Regions from separate parts of the Homo sapiens genome. Here region 1 is linked to region 2. Evidence: fine-mapped expression QTL. A gene starts in region 2. The other region holds a variant in brackets. All regions are shown on one strand. Distances are from middle to middle.

Evidence for each region. PIP is the estimated chance that this variant, and not a neighbour inherited with it, causes the effect.
Region 1: its variant is fine-mapped to the expression of RBBP5 in anterior cingulate cortex (GTEx, PIP 0.90).

What each region holds. Positions count from the first base shown.
Region 1 is chr1:205,062,774-205,073,263 of GRCh38, reverse strand. It overlaps CNTN2 (contactin 2), which reads right to left. Exons shown (of 23, transcript NM_005076.5): 11 at 8,792-8,942; 12 at 8,514-8,641; 13 at 8,002-8,177; 14 at 7,355-7,475; 15 at 6,665-6,823; 16 at 6,014-6,163; 17 at 3,703-3,773; 18 at 3,203-3,437; 19 at 2,726-2,838; 20 at 1,131-1,317; 21 at 669-781; 22 at 28-196. Among named protein-coding and RNA genes, the nearest start is that of TMEM81, 16 kb to the left of the region's middle. RefSeq lists an enhancer at 1-846. The variant T/C (reference allele first, on the strand shown) is at 6,937.
Region 2 is chr1:205,117,922-205,129,485 of GRCh38, reverse strand. It overlaps RBBP5 (RB binding protein 5, histone lysine methyltransferase complex subunit), which reads left to right and starts at 7,508. Exons shown (of 14, transcript NM_005057.4): 1 at 7,508-7,631. The coding sequence starts at 7,613. RefSeq lists a silencer at 6,531-6,825 and enhancers at 7,187-7,406, 7,547-7,726, 8,890-9,448.

The DNA.
Region 1 (10,490 bases), 56 kb after region 2:
GGGATAAGGGTAGGGGAGGAGCAGCACCTCCATTCCTCACGATGTGGACTTCTGCAGGGATCCCATCCCCTCCGGGCCCTGTGGTCCGAATTTGTACCAGGGCATGGCCAATGTCTTCAGGCACTGGGATTTCTATCCAGTTCTTGCCGGTGAGGTGGAGCGTGGGAGTCAGGTGTAAGTCATTCTGGTACAGCATCTGTGGGAAGGAGGTTTCCAGGTGGAGTTTCCTGACACCAGGGCTGATCGTTGAGTCATCCCCAGCTTTAGGTACTGGGAGGAGACCCGATGGTTCTGGGCTCTTGAGGTCCAGCCTCCTCACCCCTCCTCCCCATTGACAAAGCTCCTCATTGGTGGAGGAAAGCTTGCAGGCCACTGAACTGTTTCCGTAGACTCCTTAAGCTAGAAGAACCCCCATACTCCATCCCCATAGTCCATCACTGCCCCTGTGAACTCTGCCTTTCTGCAGTGATACCATCTGCCCGTTTTTATAGTTTCTACTGCAAGTTACTGAGAGAATAGTTCATGAATTTCATTCCTCTCACAGTCACAAACCCTTTGCTTATGTCTCACTCAGATGCCTCTTGCTATAAATTGCTGCTGCTTATGTTCACTGGAAACACAGAGGAGCTGTTCCTTCCCATTCTGGGCCTAGCTGATTGCTTCCTCACCTTATAGCCGGTGACTGCAGACTCATTTCGGAAAGGGACCACAGGGTCCCACTTAATGCTAAGACTAGAGCTTGAGAAAGTCCAGGAGATGTTGCCAGGAGGTCGCCGCGGAGCTGCCAGAGAGGAAGAATTGGAGAGATGTCCAAACGTTTCCCTGGCACCCCGCACCCCCTCACCTTTAACCAGCCCTTCTCTGGATGTTTGCCTCTAGCAGTTACACCCAGCACATTCTGTCATGCCCACGAAACAAAGCCCATGAAAATCCAAAGGTTGGAGAAGTGTGAGACGCTTCAGGGGCCATGAATTCCATTCCCTTATTTCCATTAGGCTCGCTGCCTAATTTCTGTTCAGCCCAGAGCTGGTGGGCTAGAGCATTTGTCTTATCATTGGGGAAGGAATGATCTCAGAGGCACCCACCCTCCAAAATATTGCCCTACCCCCACCCCAGGCAGACAGACTCACGGGGCTTCATGGTCGTGGCGTTGGCAGAAGGGCTGGCAGGCCCAGTGCCAGCCCGGTTGTAGGCCCTCACGGTCACATGGTACTTGGTGTTGGGATGCAGGCCGCTGACTCGGGCACTGGTGTCCAGCCCTGCTGTCCTCACTCGGTCCGCAGCTGCTTCTTTGTCCCCAGCTTTCCAGTAGCGGATCTGAAGGAGGCGGGGGTACCCAAGGGGTAGTAGTCAAGCCCAGGATCTCAGGGCTGCCCCGGCCCCCACATTCTGTTCCTCTCTTGCTCATCCTGGTCCCTGTGACCCAGTCTTAGGCCTCAGAACCTGGAGACTAGATCATGAGCACCCAGACAGCAGGGCCATGTGGGTGTGAGTCCCTGCTGTCTGTTGGTGCGTAGTTCAAGGAAGGTGCTCAAGACATGGGTCAGGGAGGGAGCTGGTGGCACAGGCTCAACCTAGCAATGGCCTGCTGGAACCCATTTCATTTCATTAACTTGGGGGGCTACCGTGGGCATTCTGCTAAGGGACAGAAAATGCTTATTTGTATTGCAAAGTAGTCCCCTGGCCCTAAGCAAGCTTCTGAAGGTTGCCTAATAAATGCAAACCCATTTTCATGGTAATCATAGCATGAAGACCTGCTAAATATGCTTTCAAAGGCAGAGGCAAGGGCAGAGTTTGGAATTATCTCCACACTGTGGCTTGCCTAAGCTATTGTACTCAAATCTAGAGTACTCTACTAGAATGAACTTGTGCTATCACTAGTAGGCCCAGCTTGATGGTTTCTTCTTGCTTTTCCTTCTTTCTCTCCCTCTTGCTTCCCATCACTTGCCATCTGCTCCACAGGTACCCCTTTGTGGAGTTCTCAGTGGGCCCAGGACTCAGGCCAGACTGCTGGGCCCCAGATTCCCCCGGGACAGGATGATCAACTGTCCATAGAGCGGCTCAGGCTGTTTTCTGTGCAGCCCTGGACAGGCCAGCCTGAATGGGCTCTGGGATGAAAGGGGCAGGCCATGCCCCTTCCCAGAACCTGTTCCTTCTACCCTCTCAGCTTCCAATGCTGGCTCTAGCCAAGCATTTACTTTAAGGCTGCCTCCAGGGTCTGTCTTCCCCAATGGGCATAAGCCATGGGGTCTTTTTTTTTTTTTTTTTGAGATGGAGTCTCGCTTTGTCACCCAGGCTGGAGTGCAGTGGCGCAATCTCAGCTCACTGCAACCTCTGCCTCCTGAACGCAAGCGATTCTCCTGCCTCAGCCTCCTGAGTAGCTGGGATTACAGGCATGGGCCACCATGCCCAGCTAATTTTTGTATTTTTAGTAGAGGCGGGGCTTCACCATGTTGGCCAGGCTGGTCTCAAACTCCTGATCTCAGGAGATCTACCGCCTCAGCCTCCCAAAGTGATGGGATTACAGGCATGAGCCACCGCGCCTGGCCTGCCATGGGGTCTTAGTGAAATTTGCATTCACAGTGCTACACAGACTGGATGCTCAGTTTGCCATGTCAGCGAACCAGGGACGCCAGGAGGAATGATTAGTGGTCTGTGAGTTGTTCCCACCTGGCTTTGAAGCCCCAGCACCCCTTCCTCTCCCAAGTCCCAGGTTGGTGCTCACCTCATACCCCAGGAGGATACCATTCATGTCCTGCTGCACGGGTTCCCAGGTCACGTTCATCTCTGAGGATGAGACCCCTTTGGCCCACACCTTGGTAGGGGCCACCCTGGGCTCTGGGGACCAATACAGAATGGGTTTGGATTCCCAGGGCCCCCCTGTGTCCTGCAGAGCAGCCCCCAACCAGGATTGCCTTTGCTTAAGATTTTGGAGGAAAGCCTTCAGGATGAAGGCCGAGTGGGAGCCCCCCAAGCAATGCTCCAGGGCCCACTTCTATTCCCAGAGAGCCTCCCTTTTCCTAACCCCGAAGGGAGACAAGGTAGCAAGAGCTGGAAGTGAGGCCAATGATGTGGAACCCAGGTGTCCTCTCAACCTCCTCCTATGGAACTGAGCTGGGAGATGAGTAGCGTTCCCCCACCCCACATCCCTGTGGACAAGTGGCTGGGGTAGGGACGAGCAGGGGGCCCAGGGGCAGCCCACCTTCCTCAGCTGAGTACACGAGTGCAGTGAGGCTCTCGGGCCCATCCCCGCGGCGGTTGTAGCTGCGGATCTTGACCTCAAAGGGCGTGTAGGGCCGGACGCTCTCGTTGCTGTAGACAAAGTACTGGGCATCGGCGCCAGGCACCCGGGCGGTCTGCCAGTGAGTGCTGCCCTGCCTGCGGAAGGACAGCAGGTAGCCGAAGCCGTCTCCGTTCTGGTACTCCCGTGACATGGGCTGAGGGGCAAGAGCATGGCATGGGCGAGGGTCCGCGGCATGTGTCCCTGCCCGTTCCCTGGCCCCACCCAACCTTTGCCAAGAGTAGCGGCCCTGGACGCCTACGCCTGCAGCGTGGATTCGCGTAAGGGGCAGCGGGTGCGTGGAAGGGGGACAGGAAGTTATCCGCGTTTGAGTCAGAGCTGTGCAGTGGTCCTTTCTGCAGCTGCTCAAGCGGGAGAGGGGTCAGGGAGGAGGAGGAGGACATCTGACCCTTGCAGCTTACCGTCCAGTTGACGATGAGCTCTCCGGGGGCTCCACCTCCTCCGCTGAGTCCTGAGGGTGCCACCGAGGGGGCTGTCAAGGGCCAAGGGACACCGATATGGCTTGTTAATGAGCAAGGAAAAAATGAAAGCCCTGAGCCTGTGCCTGTAGAGCACCGTAAGATGGGAACCCCTTCAACTGGGCCCTGGGTTTGCCCCCCAGTGGTCCCTCTGAACATAGGCTTTGGAGTCAGGCAGTCCTGAAATCAAATCCCACCTCTGCCATTTACTAGCTGTGCTTCCCTGGGCAAGTCACTTAACCTTTCTGAGCCTCTGATTCTCTTCTCCATGAAGATAATCATGTTTCTCTCAGAGGCCATAATGAGAATGAAATTAGACAAGACGGTGGTTAGTATAGAGCAGATGATGCACACATGATCATTGTCCTCCTTACTCCATCAACTTAAACTAAATCACAGAGACCAACTCTCACTCGCTTTAAAATAAGGGGAATAAATAACCCAGAACTGCAGTTAATGCAAACAAACAAACAAACAAACAAACAAACAAACAAACAAAACAAACTACTTTTGGGCTCCAGGGTGATATATTATCTATTTTTCTTTTTGTTGCAGATTTAATCTCCTAATTGTCTCTAGTATTAAACAAGGCTGATATTAAAACAGGAATTTATTTCATCAGCTCCTGCAGCTTGGCAGAAAGTAACTTGGCTGGGGGTCAAAATATTTCCGTAGAGAATCCAGCAGCTGGAGATTTTTCACTTGCTTCTGATGACAATAGTTTAGGACCGTGTAATTTGCAAGAGGTACTTAAACACATTGGCCATTTGATCCTGTGAGGTGGGTGTTATTATTGCCCTTTTCAGGGTGGAAAGACTGAGGCCCAGAGCAGTTAATCAACTTGCCTAAGGTCACACAGTTAATACATGGCACAGGTAGAATCTGAACTCAGCCCTTCTCATTTTAAAGCCCATCATGTTTCCTTTGCATCACAGCTGTCTTTGTGCTCCTCAGCTACTGGGATGCTGTAAATAGAATAAAGGAGTCCCCTCATTTCTCCACATTTGACCCTCCAAGAAGTTCAGGATCAATCAAAGAAAGTGCTGCCTCTGGAATTTCTTACTCAGGAGAGGTACCAGCTAAAAATGTTGAGTGATTCTAGAAAAAGGGCCTGGAGAGTCAGTCTGGGGCATGTAGGAGAACATGTTTCAGGCAGACAAGAAGGTGGACCCTCACTACACATCCAGTGCAACAGGTCTGTAGAGGAGGTGAGGCAGGGTCCTTAATCTATGCTCCTGGTCCCAGGATCCCCGGGCTCTCATTCCAGGCCTTCCCCTGCGAATGGCTCGGAGATGGGCAGGAGCCTCTCAGCAGATGCTGACTGGAGCCTGTGCCTCCCCTACTCTCTCCTGGGTTCTTTTCTCCCCCTCCTTCTCCACTCAAGTTCTGACACCCACACGCTTTTTGCTGAGGGTTGTGGGCAGGTTATTCAATTCCATCTGCTCCCAAAGAAACCATCTAAAGGCTTGGAGACACTGGCTGCTTCCCTAGCCCCCTGCACAGAACACACACACATCTTTCACATCAACTGATTTCCTTTTTTTCTTTCTTTTTTTTTTTTTTTTTTTTTTTTTTTTGAGATGGAGTCTCGCTCTGTCGCCCAGGATGGAGTGCAGTGGTACAATCTTGGCTCACTGCAACCTCCACCTCCCGGGTTCAAGCGATTCTCCTGCTTCAGCCTCCCGAGTAGCTGGGATTTACAGGTGTGTGTCACCACGCCTGGCTAATTTTTGTATTTTTAGTAGAGACGGGGTTTCACCATGTTGGCCAGGCTGGTCTCAAACTTCTGACCTCAGGTGATCTGCCTGCCTCGGCCTCCCAAAGTGCTGGGATTACAGGCTTGAGCCACTGCGCCCAGCCAGCATTAACTGATTTCTGTAGTGCATACTCTTCCAGGAAGACATCTGTCTACCACCCCATGGTCCTGGGTTCAAGTCCAAGCTCTGTCAATGTGACTCTTCCTTTCTCCGAACTTTGGTTTTTCCACTTTTAAAAATTAAACTTAAAAAAATTATAGATGCACATGCAGTTGTAAGGTTGGCCAGTTTTTAAATGAGGAGTTTGGACTAGATGGTTTGTCCATGCAGTGGCCCTGGTCCCAACTTGGTGTTCTGTCCTCCTCTGTTTTGTGAGAGTCTGAACCCTGTGAGCAGGGTTGGAACTCAGCATAATTGCGGCTGGCTTGGCATTCCCTATAAGTGGTGCCAGGGTCTCTGCCCTGATGATAGCTTTTTGGGACACACAGGACTCTCACCTGCTTCCCTGGTCCGGATTTTGCTGGAGGGCCCACTAGGCTCCCCAGTGCCCAGAATGTTGCTGGCTATGACCCGGAACTCATAGTCCATCCAGGGGGTGAGGCCCAGCACCTGTGCAGTCTCGGCATTGCCCTCGATGTTTGCAGGATCTGCAAGGCACCAGGGAGTCCATATTCCAGCATTCGCTTATTCATCTGGGTGCAGAGGGCAGGCACTGGCCTGAATCACCCCTTATCTACCCAGCCCTCACTTCGGTACTTGCCATATACTAAGCACTCAGTACCTTTTTCAGAAATGATTGAAAAACTACTCAATTTCCCTATCTTGGTGCCTCTGCAATGCTGTGTGCACGCCTACGCCCCTATGTCCCCATGAATATTTTCATTGCTCCAGTAACAATCCTACCAATTCTTCAAGGGCATAGACCAAGCGCCTCCTCTTCTAACTCTTTCCCGACTCTCCTACTTTCTGTGTGACTGTCTTCCTGCCTGCCTGCATGCTCTCTGCTGGCAGAGGACAGATCTTGTCCCTCTTTGAAGCTCCAGGCTCAGCCCTGGCCCTCAGACCCCGATCCCCAAACCTTGACCCTTTCCACCTCCTACACCCAGTCGAGCCTTATCAGCACTGACCCAGGTGGGGCTCACACTTACTGGTCCGAACCTGCTTCCACTTCCCTGCAGGTGGAGTGCGAGCTTGCAGGGTGTACTTAGCGATGGGGCTGTGGTTGTCGAAGCCACGGCTCCAGCTGAGCTGGATGGTGGTGTCGCCAATGTCCCTCACCACCACACCTCCTGGGGGACCTGGCGGACCTGCACCAAGAGGTCAGAGCACAGTGGGTCAGAATTGGGCAGCTTCCAATTTGAGCCAACCTCCTCCCAGCCAGGCTTGAGCTGGTACAGTACCAAGACAGGGCAGCAGAGGA[T/C]GCAGTGAACACACACCCAGGCGGGAGGGCGGGCAAGGGGTGTGGGCAGTTGGGGCGGGTGCCAGTTGTTGGGTGGAGGGATGTGTCTCAAGGCTGGGGGAGCTCACAGAGGCTGTCACATGGAGAGGTGCATAGATCTCCCAGCACTAGGCTTTGAAAACTTCAGGGCTCAGTAAAGCACTCCTGTCTTGGGATGTGTTTAGGAGTGGATTTTTTAAACTTTGACTTTGGAAGAAAAATGTCCTGATCATTTAGGACCTGTGAAGAACCACAGGGTATATCCAGCTCACAGGAGTTCCGCCGGAAGCCCTTCCCCGCAGCTTTGAGGGAAGGGAGGGGAGATGAGGCGAGCAGGTCAGAACAGCCCAGCTGGGTTTTAAGGGAGTTGGGGTAGGGGTAGAGGTGGGAAACCCCTCACCTCGGACCAGGACTGTGGCCTCCTTGGACGCGCTGTCCACCACCGTCTGGGCCATGCACGTGTACTTCCCCCCATGGCGCAGCTGGGCGTTCAGGATGGTCAGATCCCCAATGGTCTCCTTCTGCACACGGGGACAGTTAGGGGCAGCAGGTCAGACCACCGGCCCTGACCAGTGCAGCAGGCCATGAGACATGAGGCAGCGCTTGGGAGTCCCCTACTCCATGACATCCATGGACCCCACTGGATCTCAGTTTTCCTGTCTGCTCAATGGGAGGAATCACGACTCATCACTTAGAACCACTGGGGACTAAACAGCAAAGTTTGTTTCAGGAGACAGTCAATGACTGTCCACATTAATAATATCATTTGCCCTAGGGGACAGGCTAACAAGAACAGTAGTGGGAGTGTCTTGGTGGCTGCCCACAACTCCAGGTTTGTCCCTAACCCTCTCCTAAATGCATGGTCCCTGGGTGGAATCCAGGAAGGTCAGCTGTTCATCCAAGGATGAGCTTGCCATGTGTGGGCCTGAGGGAATGGGGGCGCTTAGGCTATGGGTTTCTTAAAGGTGAGGATGGCTAAGGACATCTTGGGGCCCCTGTCTCTCTAGAAGGAGGGAGAAGCCATGGGGCTCTGGCCCTAGGTCTCACCACATTAGTTCTCCGGTAGTGCCCTCCAGGCTTATCAAAGTCGATGGGGAAGTCGTCCAGGGTCCAGGTGAAGGTGAGGTCCATGGTGGGGTCGTGGGAGGCATGGCACTGTAGGGTCAGGTTGTCACCCAAGTTGATGTCGGCACTTGAGGGGGCTAGAGTGATTTTGGTTGCATCTGCCAAGAAAAACAAGGCCCTTGGGTGGATGGGGGAGGAAATGGGCCCAGGCCGGGTCCGCAGGGCAGGCTGAGAGGCTCTGTCCTAAGGCCCAGCAAAGAGAAGAGGTGGTGTGACCCACAGGTCCCAACTGCCCAGGACTGCATGAGTGTGTGGCAGGCAGGGAGGCATGACCAGAGTCTCAGTGGTGGCCAGGGGGTGGTCCCAAGCAAAACTGAATCCTGGGGTGGCCTTGACACCAAACTAGGAGCAATGTGGACACAGGAGCAGGATGATGGGGAGGACAGTACCCTGAGGAGGCTGAGCCCCCGGCCTACCCACATGGCAGCCCTCACCTCGCACAGATAGGATTCCAGTGCTGTTGGCTTTGCCCATGAAGTTCTCAGCAAAGCAGGTGTATTTGCCTTCATCTGACCGGCTGATGTTTCTTATGATCAAGGTGCCATCTGGAGTTACAGTCACTCTGTGGCAAGGACAAGGCAGATGTGGCCAACTCAGGCATGGTTGTCCCTGGGGCTGGCCAACTCCTGTGACTGTTGTCACAGGAGGGGAATTGGCCTCCATGGAGAATGAGGAGGAGCAGGAACTGTGCAGGGTGGGGTGTGGGTGGTACCTGCTGCTGTTGACCAAAATCTCCGTGCCTTTGCTCCAGAGCACCACGGCCTTTGGAGCTGCCCGGGGCTGGCAGGGGATAAGGATCTCTCCCCCGCGGGCCGCGGGGATCAGACGCCTCACGGGATTCAGCCTGAAGTCAGGGGCGAGTGCTAGAAGGAAAGGGGAGAGCCACAGAGAAAAGTACTGTCACCCTTGATTAAGACGTTACTTGGCGTGCCCTTTGAAGCCACGCCATGAGTGACTCCTATTAGCACCTCTTCCAGAATGCATCCAGAACCAAGCCCTTTTTTCTCTGGCCTAAGCTATCAAATCTCCCGCCTGGACTATTGACAACGCGCCCCCCCTCCGCCCCTCACCACCACCCCTGCCACCCCACATCAGTCTTCCTGTTTCTGCACCTTCCTTCTACAATCTTTTCTCCACCCAGTTGGGAATGAACAGCTTTTTCAACTCACACTCAGTGAAGCCCGGCTCTTCACAAATAAGTCTCCACCTTTCCAATCGCATCTTGCTCCACTCTATCCCCCATTCATTATGTTCCAATCACCTAGCCTTTTTTTTTCTCTCTCTCTCTCTTTTGAAGTTGTGAAGTCTTTTCCTGCCTCCAGAGCTTTGCACTTGCTGTAAATCTTGCCTGGAAATTCCCCAGATCTTCACGCGGCTGGCTTCTTAACATTCAGGTCACAGTCTAAATGAGACTTCCTCAGAGAGGACTTCTCTGACCACCCCACCTAACAGGCCCATCTCACGCCCATCACTCTACTGGGTTTTCTTTTCTTTTCTTTCTTTCTTTCTTTCTTTCTTTTTCTTTTCTTTTCTTTCTTCTTCTTTTTTTTTTTTTAAAAGACAAGTCTTGCTGTGTTGCCCAGGCTGGAGTGCAATGGCACAATCTCAGTTCACTGCAGCCTCTGCCTCCAGGGCTCAAGTGATTCTCCTGCCTCAGCCTCCTGTGTAGCTGGGACTACACGTGTGTGCTACCATGCCTGGCTAAATTTTGTGTTTTTCATAGACATGGGGTTTCACCATGTTGCCCAGGCTGGTCTCAAACTCCTGAGCTTGAGGAGATCCACTCACCCCTGCCTCCCAAAGTGCTGGGATTACACAGGCATGAGCCACTGCACCCTGCCTGGATTTTCTTTATACTATATTTGATGGCTAGCTGAAATTATTTAATTGTTTGATTTGGGGTTTATTTGTCCCTTTCCCTCTACTGGATTGTAAGCTACTTAAAGGCAGAGACCGTATCTTTTATATTCATCCCTGTGAAGTGTTGAGTAAGTAGTGGTTGAATGGATGAAGGAACGAATGAATGCTTCTTAGCAAAGCTTCACTAAAACCTGATGTGGTGGGTATCACTGTGTCCATTTTATGGATGAGGAAACTGAGGCTCAGTGAGCTCAAGTCACACAACTAAATATTAGCACTGGCTTACATTTCCCGGGCACCTGCTGTATGGTGGGCAGGCCCTTTATGCTGTACCTCTTTCATCTCACTTGTTCCATACAGCAGCCCAGGAGGGCAGGACTATTATTGCCTATATTTTATAATCAAGAAACTGAAACACAGAAACACTAAGTAACTTGCCAAAGCTCACATAGCTGAAAGGGTTGGGTTACACAAATCTGATTGATTTGGTTTCTGTTTTTTTCACTCACTGCAGCAAACATTTACTGTGTGCCAGACATGGAACAAGTCAG
Region 2 (11,564 bases):
ATCTGCAATCCTTTTTTAAAAACTGGCCAGCCGCGGTGGCTCATGCCTGTAATCCCAACACTTTGGGAGGCCAAGGCAGGAGGATCGCCTGAGGTCAGGAGTTTGAGACCAGCCTGGCCAACATGGTGAAACCCCATCTCTACTAAAAATATAAATATTAGCCAGGCATGGTGGCAGTTGCCTGTAATCCCAGCAACTTGGGAAGCTGAGGCAGAAGAATCACTTGAATCCGGGAGGCACACGTTGCAGTGAGCTGAGATCATGCCATTGCACTCCAGCCTGGACAACAGAGGGACATTCTATCTCAAAAAAACCAAAAAAAAACAAAAAACTGTTTTATGGCCAGACGCCGTGGCTCATGCCTGTAATCCCAACACTTTGGGAGGTCGAGGAGGGTGGATCACCTGAGGTCTGGAGTTCAAGACCAGCTTGGCCAACATAATGAAACACCACCTTTACTAAAAATACAAAATTAGCTGGGTGTGGTGGCACATGCCTGTAATCCCAGCTACTTGAGAGGCTGAGGCAGAAGAATCACTTGAATCTGGGAGGCAGAGGTTGCAGTGAGTCGAGATTATACCATTGCACTCCAGCCTGGGCAACAAGAGTGAAACTCTGTCTGAAAAATAAATAAATAAATAAATAGGCCAGGCGCGGTGGGTCATGCCTGTAATCCCAGCACTTTGGGAAGCTGAGGTGGGCAGATCACCTGAGGTCAGGAGTTCAAGACCAGCCTGGCCAACATGGTGAAACCCCGTCTCTACTAAAAATAGAAAAAATTAGCCGGGTGTGGTGGCAGGCGCCTGTAATCCCAGCTACTAGGGAGGCTGAGGCAGGAGAATTGCTTGAACCCAGGAGGTGGGAGGCGGAGGTTGCAGTGAGCCGAGATCGCGCCATTGCACTCCAGCCTGGGCAACCAGAGTGAAACTCCGTCTCAAAAAAATAAAAATTAAAAAATTAAAAAAAAACAAAATAAATAAATAAAACTGTTTTTACAACTTGTCCAGTGAAATAAGTATTAGTACTTCTATCACTACAACCAGAAAACATGCACTGAAAATGACAATTGAATAAAATTCTTCTATAAAGGTTTAAGTGACCCATCAGGTAGCAGAAATGTACTTGAAGTTGTGTTCATCTTCCCAGGATTATGGGTTTAACAAACAAAACATTGATCATAAACTATTTTAGCAATTTAGAACAGTCATCATACACACCCACTCACGCACACACATACACACACATTTAATTTGGAACATTTTATCTCTTCATGATGAATCATGGAAAGCTTAATAATGGAGGCTTTAAGGACTCAGGAAGGGCCAGGCAGCCATCAGGGTTCTCCATGAGTCTGCGCCTAATATTGGACTTATATTTTAATACCAACTGTGTTTCCCCAATTTAGGTGCATAGCACTGTTTATTAGATGGGTTAGCATAGGTAATTTGAGTTGGACCATGGAATTTATTCAAATTGCACATCTTAACAATTTCCATACTGGCTGATCTAGTATGACAATTTGGCAAAGTATTTTCTTGGTATTCAATTATTTATTTATTTATTTGAGACAGGGTCTCACTCTGTTGCCTAGGCTGAAGTGCAGTGGTGCAGTCTCAGCTCACCGCAACTTCCCCCTCCCAGGCTTAAGCAATCCTTCCACTTCAGCCTCCCAAGTAACTGGGACTACAGACATGCACCACTATGTCCGGCTAATTTTTATATTTTTTGTAGAGACAGGGTTTCCCCATGTTGCCTAGACAGGCCTCAAACTCTTGGGCTCAAGGGATCCTCCTGCCTTGGCCTCCCAAAGTGCCGGGATTACAGGCATGAGGCACTACCCCAGCCTTCAATTAATTCTTGTCCTGTTTGGGTTAGCAGTTTTATAAACCAGTCATTCCTTTTATTAGAGTTCTGAGAATTCTTACCTAGTCCAAATGATGTGATCCTAAAGTTATCAGAAAGCTGTATTTTTTTTTTTTTTTGAGACGGGGTCTCGCTCTGTTGCCCAGACTGGAGTGCAGTGGTACGATCTCAGCTTACTGCAACCTCCACCTCCCAGGTTCAAGCGATCCTCCTGCCTCAGCCCCCCTAGTAGTGGGGATTAGAGGCACATGCCACCATGCCTGGCTAATTTTTATTCTTTTAGTAGAGATGGGGTTTCACCATGTTGGCCAGGCTGATCTCGAACTCCTGACCTCATGATCTGCCCGCCTCAGCCTCCCAAAGCACTGGGATTACAGGCGTGAGCCACTGTGCCCAGCCGTTTTTATTCTTTTTTAGAACAGGGTCTCACTATTTTGCCCAGGCTTGTCTCGAACTCCTGGGCTCAAGTGATCTTCCTGCCTCAGCCTCCCTAAGTACTGCGATTGCAGGTGTGAACCACCACACCTGGCTTCCTTTAGATTTTTTAATTTCTTGTCATGAAGTGGTACAAAAAGTAGTCTTTTATAATTATTTTATTCTCATCTCTCTGCTTTATTTTTTAAGTGGCAGACTTCTCTACCATGTTTTTCTACACTATTATACAATGTAAAGAACAAGGGTTTCTACTGGTAAATGGTCTTATTACTCATCTAAAATATAAATCTTTTTATTTATCAAGAATCATAAGACATATTTTAAATAACTATGTGACTTCACGAAGCATAAGTAGGCCAGGCATGATGGCTCATGCCTGTAATCTCAGCACTTTGGGAGACTGAGGTGGGAGGATCACTTGAGCCCAGGAGTTCGAGACCAGCTTGGGCTACATAGGGAGACCCCCCCCCGCACCATCTCTAAAATATATATATATAGTTAAAAAAAGAATAATTAGTGTAAGAGATAACAATGGCTCATAAATTGTATTACTGTTGATCACTTATGATATAATCTGAAATCACAACGAACTGCTGAGGGTTTCGTACAAAAAAAGTTTAATTTTTATTTCCAAATAACTTTAAAAAGCTAGAACAGCTTTTAGATTTTGAGACGGCCATCTCAATATATTTGTTTATCTTCTGCAGAATGAATAAAAAGGATTATTTTTAATTTCTTAAGCCAGTCTGAGAGCCTCTGTCTCTGAAGCCAGTCTGAAAAAATCTTTGCATTAATTATACTGATTCATTTATTTTGCAAATATTTTACAAATACATATTAAAGCACCTGTATGCCCTTTCTTTTCTAGGCACAATGGCATATCTGTGAATAAAATTGACAAAGTACTTACCTTTAAGGAGCTTATACTCTCGTAAAAGGGAGACAATGAAGAAACAAATAAATGAATCAATGTATAATGGGACAAGCGGTGATAACTACCATGAAGGAAAATGAAGTAGGGGCCGGGTACAGTGGCTCACGCCTGTAATCCCAGCACTTTGGGAAGCTGAGGTGGGCAGATCACCTGAGGTCAGGAGTTCGAGACCAGCCTGGCCAACACGGCAAAATCCTGTCTCTACTAAAAATACAAAAATTAGCTGGGCATGGTGGGGCATGCCTGTAATCCCAGCTACTTGGGAGGCTGAGGCAGGAGAATTGCTTGAACTCAAGAGGCGGAGGTTGCAGTGAGTGGGGACTGCACCACTGCACTCCAGCTTGGGTGACAGAGCAAGACTCCGTCACACACACACACACACACACACACACACACACACACACACACACACAAATAAAGAGGGATTCAGGCAGAGGGAACAAAAGTGCTACATTCCTGCAGGAATAAAGTGCTTAGCAAGCTCATATAATAGCAAGGCAGTGCCAATGTGACTGGAAAAGAATGAGTTTCAGGCCGGGTGCGGTGGCTCACGCCTGTAATCCCAGCACTTTGGGAGGCCGAGGAGGGCGGATCACGAGGTCAGGAGATCGAGACCATCCTGGCTAACAAGGTGAAACCCCGTCTCTACTAAAAATACAAAAAATTAGCCAGACGCGATGGCGGGCACCTGTAGTCCCAGCTACTCGCGAGGCTGAGACAGAAGAATGGCGTGAACCCGCGAGGCAGAGCTTGCAGTGAGCCAAGATTGCGCCACTGCACTCCAGCCTGGGTGACAGAGCGAGACTCCGTCTCAAAAAAAAAAAAAAAAAAAAAAGAATGAGTTTCAGTAGAAGAGAGGTAGGTAGCAGGGGGGCCAATTAGCTGCTTATTGCTGATTTCATTATATGAATATATCAGGATATAGCCATTCTACAGTTTTTGATGTTTGGGCTATTTGTGATTTTTTTTTGCTATTATGAACAATGGTACTATGTCCATTGTACATGTTTCCTGGTGCACTTGTGCAAGAGTTTTTCTACAATATATACCTACAGGTAGAATTTCCTGGTCATAGTGTATAAAAATGTAAACAAGGTCATTTTTACTACATAACAAGAAATTGTTTTCCGACGTGGTTGTACTGATTCACATTCTCTTGAGAGAATTCTCTTACAAGAATTTTGGGTGCTCTTCTTTTAGTTTGTCAACTTTGTCGTTGTAAATATCTAATTGTGACTTAATTTGCATTTTACTGATTACTGATGAGATCTGGCGTTGTCAAATAGATCACTTCCCTTTTTTTGAAGTGCCATGGCTTGCTCTCTAATTTTTACAGGTTATTTAAACTTTCTTTTTTTTTTAAAAGAAAAAGGCCAGGCATGGTGACTCACCACCTGTAATGGCAGCACTTTGCGGGGCCGATGTGGGCAGACAGCTTGAGCCCAGGAGTTCGAGTCCAGCCTGGGCAACATGGTGAATCCCTGTCTACAAAAACTACAACAATTAGCTGGGCATGTTGGTGCCTGCCTATAGTCCCTGCTACTTGGGGGGACTGAGGTGGGAAAATCACTTGAGCCTGGAGGTTGAGCTGCAGTGAGCTGTGATCATGCCACTGCACTCCAGCCTGGACGACAGAGTGAGACTCTGTCTCAAAAAAAAAAAAAAAAAAGAAAAGAAAGAAAGAAAAGAAAAAAAAAGAAAGTCCAAATAGGATTGGAGGGGTAGAAAGGGAAAAAGAGGTGTGAGGAAAAAGGTGTACTGAAAATCCCTCAGTGGGCCGGGTGCTGAGTTGAGATTGCGCCACTGCACTCCAGCCCAGGCGACAAGAGCAAGACTCCCTCTCAAAAAAAAAAAAAAGAAAAGAAAAGAAAATTCCTCAGGGGTTTTCTAACACTATTTTTATTTTCATTTTATTTATTTATTTATTTTGAGATGAAGTCTTGCTGTTGCCCAGGCTGGAGTGCAATGGCATGATCTTGGCTCACTGCAAACTCCACCTCCTGGGTTCAAGCGATTCTCCTGCCTCAGCCTCCCTAGTAGCTGGGATTACAGACATGCGCCACCACACCTGGCTATTTTTTGTATTTTTGGTATAGACGGGGTGTCACCATGTTGGCCAGGCTGGTCTCGAACTCCTGACCTCGTGATACGCCTGGCCTCTGCCTCCCAAAGTGCTGGGATTACAGGTGTGAGCCACTGCACCTGGCCTCACTATTTTTATTTTTAACAGCTTTAATTTTAACTTCATTAGCTATATTAGCATCCAATCTGTAAAAATTATTACATTGGAATCAGGCGTGGTAGCTCACAGCTGTAATCTGTAATCCCTGCATTTGGGAGGCTGAGGCAGGAGGATTACTTGTGCCCAGGAATTTAAGGTTACAGTAGTGAGCTATGGTTTCGTCATTGCATTCCAGCCTGGGCAACAGAGTGAGACCATATCTCTAAATACATATATATATGATTACTTTGGATTTGAGAGTAGAGTCAGAGAATTTAGAGGAAACTAGGCTGTGGTTTTCACACGATATTTTTCCTTGTTGCTTTTGCCTTTATGCAAAGTTTTCCTTTGTCTTTGGAGAGTAGAAAAACTGTGGATTTTTTTTTTTTTGAGACAGAGTCTCACTCTGTTGTCCAGGCTGGAGTGCAATGGTGCGATCTTGGCTCACTGAAACCTCTGCCTCCCGGGTTCAAGCGATTCTCCTGCCTCAGCCTCCCGAGTAGCTGGGATAACAGGCATGAGCCACCACGCCCAACTAATTTTGTATTTTTAGTAGAGACAGTGTTTCTCCATATTGATCAGGCTGGTCTCGAACTCCCGACCTCAGGTGATCAGCCCGCCTCGGCCTCCCAAAGTGCTGGGATTACAGGCGTGAGCCACCGCACCCGGCTGCAAAAGACATACTTTATAAAGGTCCAAGGATAATGGAAATAGAAGACATTAATGTAATATGTTCTTGGGAACTAATTGGATACACCAAGTATTATCTTTGACTAGTTTCTGGACTTCTGCTTCATTCTGCAACCTGCAGCCAACTACCATGGTGTCCATCTATTATTAGGCGCTTTAAATAGCTCCTTAATTCACATTTACTCTCTTCAATCGATGTGTCAGACTGTGGGGGCCACTTAATTCCCATTCCAAATTCTTGGGAAAGGAATTTAATTGGGTTGAGCTTAGGTCAGGGGCTTACTGAAAGAGCAATCAACTGGGGCCCAGGGACAGGGTGCACTGTGTGAATGAGGCTGCTTTTTCTGCAAATTTGTCAAGTAGAGGCAGACTGGACTAGCTACATAATTTGCAGGGCCCTGGGCAACATGAAAATGCTGGGCTCCCTAGTTCAAAAGTTTCATTATTGTTTCCAAAAGTTTGCAATTGCAGACAATACTGCGATTAATAAACTTGTGTATGTGTATTTTTCCATTGTCGGAGACCTAGCCCGAGTACTATTTTCTGCAGCGAGCCTTTGACGTTGTTTCCTTTTTCTGATGAGCCACAGCATTTATAGTAGGAATTTGTTCATATAAAATTTGCTCTTTCGCTAGATACCAGTAACTGGACTTCTCTAATTGCTTTGGGTATTTCATTGGAGTTCTGTATGACTGAGCTCCGGGAAACTCAGTCCACCCCTCATTCCAATTCTTTTTCACAGTCTTTTTCACAGCGTCCCTGTCAACACTGTTTGGTAAAGGGTAAAACCTTAGATAATAAGGTTTTTATTATCTTAACACAGACAGGCCTAACATATGTTGTCGTACCTTTCTGTAGGATCAATAGCATATCTTTACAAATGAGAAATAATTTTCACGAGACCGAAACACCCTGCAACGCCACCTACATACAGGGTAAGTACGCGCCTTGGTGAGGTCAGCGGCGCTACACACCCGAGCACTAGGGGACGACCTTCCCTGGTTTCTTGCATTAGCAGGACTTGTCCGGAACCTTTCCTGCGGAGTCTGAGGTAGCCCGCCCGGACAACGCCGCTGAACACACAACAGGGCAAGAACTAGTAGGTTAACTGTATGCCTGGAATTTCTACCTCACCTACATGTTCCCGGAGCAAATAATCTTAAATTGTCGCGCTATTTAAAGTCCCTAGTGACGATAACATTGTTGTACCTCAGCAAAGATCATAATTAATTGTTTCCGAGAGAGTGTATGCTTGATTTTGGTCAGGCATATATTTGGGCAGCCCACCTGAAACGAACAAGGAAGGCGGGGGAAGAAAGCGGAAGCCGCGGGGCCTTCTAAGGCCGAAAGTCTTCGGAGCTTGCGCCAGTCTCTTCGCGGCGTCCACCACTTAGACGCAAGTTGCTGAAGCCGGCCGGGGAGAAGGTGTTGTTGCCGGAGCTGAGACCGGGCGGCCACAGTCCGCAGGGATGAACCTCGAGTTGCTGGGTGAGAAGGGCTGTGGCTGCGTTTTAGAGAAGCGTTGGGTACTGGAAAGGAGGGAACCCAGGCGGGAGGGGAGTCAGGCTGCAATCTTAGGGACACTGTTCGGCTATGGATCACTGGGCACACCTGATGTGGAGCAGCAGCGGGAGGAGGAAGCCCACCTTCTGCCCGAGTAGGTTGCATTGCCCCTCCCGAGGCCACTTTCATATCAATTATGGAGCGATGGGGACAGACAGTTTGTGACTTAGCTTTGATTATGAGGATCGCAGGTGTTGAAGTACCCAGAGCAGCCAGGACCAGAGTTGTTGGAGATGGAATTTGAAGAAGTGAGGCTTGGGATGAAGCTTTGAAGACTTGTCAGGGAATTGGGTGCCTGAACAGGTTAATCTTTTTGTAGAAAAGAGAAGTCTAAGGAGGGGACTTGGAGATCTTCTGGTAGAAGCTTCTCATTGAACAGATGAATAAAGGCTCAGAGGGTAATGGCTAGGCACTAAGCAAGTAAATGGCATAGTTGGCACTGGAATCCAATTATCCTAACTTTCTGTTTAAGGTCCTTTGCTAGGGACGGTGTGTAAAACACTGAGGTGTGAAATACGGAGGGAGTTGTCTTTTGTCGCCCTCACTTTGAGTCATTGCCTCCTTACCTCCTATCCAGATTATTTAAAAACTGTAGGTCCTTTCTCCTGGACTTCCATTAGGTGACATTTAGCATGGTATTCTAGGGGTAGCTGAGGTTTTCAAGGACTTCTGCACTACTTGCTGTTCCTAATGGTTAGGTTTCTCTTTTAAAAAAGTCAGAAGATATGTTAATTGTCAAAAGGGCTACAAAGATACATAAAAAATGGTCTTTGCCCTTAAAGAGCTTTTCATTAAGCAGGGAGTTTAAGGTGATTATGTAAAATAGCTGTAGGATATTGCAGAATGTAGGCAGGCCTGAAAGAGTCATTACCAGTTGCTAAGAATGTTTGGAACAGAGAGTGAATGTCTTTGGGGTAAAGGAAGAAGTCAACCAGGAAAAACAAACCCCCCAAACCTGTGGAGGAGTTGGAGTTTTAAGTGGACTTTTTTTTTTTTTTTTAAGACAGCCTCGCGCCGTCGCCTAGGCTGGAGTGCAGTGGCACAGTCTTGGCTCACTGCAACCTCTGTCTCCTGGGTTCGAGTGATTCTCGTGCCTCAGCCTCCTGAGTAGCTGGTACTACAGGTGCGCACTGCCATGCCTGGCTAATTTTTGTATGTTTAGCAGAGATGGGGTTTCACTGTGTTGGCCAGGCTGGTCTCAAACTCCTGGCCCCAAGCAATCCACTCACCTCAGCCTCCCAAAGTGTCCGGCCTTAAGTGGATTTTTAAGGTTGGTAAAATATCAACAGGCTGAAGTATGAAAATATGGGAGGGATGTTCAGTAGGCATCAGTGAGAGAAGACCTAAAGAATTTTCCTGCTTGGCCAGGTTGTGGATAAAGAGAATGCCAGGGGATGGGATCGGTGCCATCTATTTTGTGTTGGTTCTCGAATGCCTAGCTCAAAAGTTTGGGCTTTTTAGGGAAGGTAGGGTAGATCCATTGAAGGATTTTGACTTAGTAACTCAATCAGAGCTATGAGTTTGTAAGGTTTGTCTGACAGCAATGTGGAGTTGAGTTTTGGAGGAGTGTAAAACCAGTTTGGAGGGGTAGATTATATGAGTGATGAGGAAGGCCTGAGCTAGGAAATAGAAAAGACATTGAGGAGGTAGGGATGACAAATTTGAGAATAGATTGCATATAGTGCTGATGAGTAAGAGAGTGACGTGAAAAATGGTGAGAGCAAATAATGATGCTGTTGATAAAGTGTAAGGTCATTGGAAAAAGACAGCTTTGGAGAAGCTGAATGTGGTCTAGGGGTCAGGAGACAGGTTTGGATTTATGGGAGAGATTTGTATTCTTTCAGATGGGCTCATTGAAACCTTGTGAATAGAGGACATGATCTAGAGAAAAAGTGGGAGGGGGAGAAAAGAAAATTGCCAAGCACACAATCTGTAGTTAGAGGTTAAGAGGAGGAATAAGTGGAGATAATAAGTTAGCTAACGGTTATAAAGTACTTTCTCTGAGCTAGGCAGATTTTCAAGTGCCTTCCATGTATTAATCTATGTAGAGGAAGAAGAGAGTACAGATTGGTGTGGCGTCTTCATAGAAGCCAATCAGAGCAGTTGAGTCTGAGGGCTGAGAATGGGTTGCTCTGTTTAGTCCTTTGGCAGCTTGGGACTCCTCAGCAGCTGGAACAGAAACCAGATTACAATGATTTTAGAATGGTGTGGGAGACAAGGGCAAAAGGTTGACGCTTACTTGTAAAAACTTAAGGATGGAAGAAAGGTGATAACGCTAGTACTTTGAAAGAGTAGCAGGATCTTGCAAAAGGCTTTTCTTGAATGATACAGAAGGTTCATTAGGATAAAACTTAGGAAGGAATATTTATTTTTATTTATCTTTTGAGACGGAGTCTTGCTCTGTTGCCCAGGCTGGAGTGCAGTGGCACAATCTCGGCTGACAGCAACTTGCGCTTCCCAAGTTCAACCGATTCTCCTACTTCAGCCCTCCCGAGTAGCTGGGATTACAGGCACCCAACACCACACCTGGCTATATTTTTTGTATTTTTAGTAGAGACTGGGTTTCACCATGTTGGCCAACCTGGTCAGGAACTCCTGACCTCAAGTGATCTGCCCACCTTGGCCTCTGAAAGTGCTGGGATTACAGGTGTGAGCCACTGTGCCCAGCCAGGAAGGAATATTTAGCACTGGAAGGTTAGACAAATTAAAGAAGCCTGGGTCCGAAAGATAACAATCTCTGAAAATGACTCTGCATTTTAAAGTGAGAAAGTTAATGATTATAGATAAAAGGAAAGGAACAGAAGTAATGTGATTGTGGAAGCCTACTGAAGGACATCTGGCCAGATGAAGGAAATGAATGACAATGTATTTTTAATGTGGTTAGACAAGTGGCTCATAGGTAGACACTAGTTTTACTTCTGCAACCACTTTTTGAGTCCCTGCTGTGTATTCACCAGTGTGCACCGGAGATATAATTAAATAAGATCATTTGTCAAACTTATTTTTACCACAAATCACAGTAAGAAATATATATTCTATCACAGTTCACTATATATACCTACACGTGTAACTAAGTTTCTCAGAATTATATTTAATCCTTGTTATGTTCAGTGTTCTCTGATAGTTTCTTTTCTTTTCTTTTCTTTTCTTTTTTCTTTAGAGGGAGTCTTGCTTCTGTCGCCCAGGCTGGAGTGCAGTGGCATGATCTTGGCGATCTTGGCTCATTGCAACCTCCGCCTCCTGGGTTTAAGTGATTCTCATGCTTCAGCCTCCCAAGTAGCTGGGATTACAGGCGTGTGCCACCATGCCCAACTAATTTTTTTTTTATTTTTAGTAGAGACAGGGTTTCACCATGTTGGCTCAGCTGGTCTCAAACTCCTGACCTAGTGATCTGCCCACCTCGGCCTCCCAAAGTGCTGGGATTACAGGCGTGAGCCGCTGCACCTGGCCGATATTTTCTAATCTATTGCAACATTTGTTCCAACTCACTAAATTAATGTATCCATTTATGGTGGATTGCGTCTTACTGTTTGAAAAACATTGAAATAAGATACCACTTTTGCCCTCGTAAATAGAGCTAAGAGGAGAGACAAACAAGTAGCTGTGTATAATAGGGAACCACAATAAATGAGCTATGGGAATCCAGCTAAAAGCACTTACAAGCAGTTGAGGTGGGGTGTGGTGACTCACGCCTGTAATCCCAGCACTTTGGGAGGCCAGAGTGGGTGGATCACCTGAGGTCAGGAGTTGGAGACCAGCCTGGTCAACATGGTGAAACCCCGTCTCTACTAAAAATACAAAAATTAGCCGGACATGGCAGTGCATGCCTGTAATCCCAGCTACTCGGGAGGCTGAGGC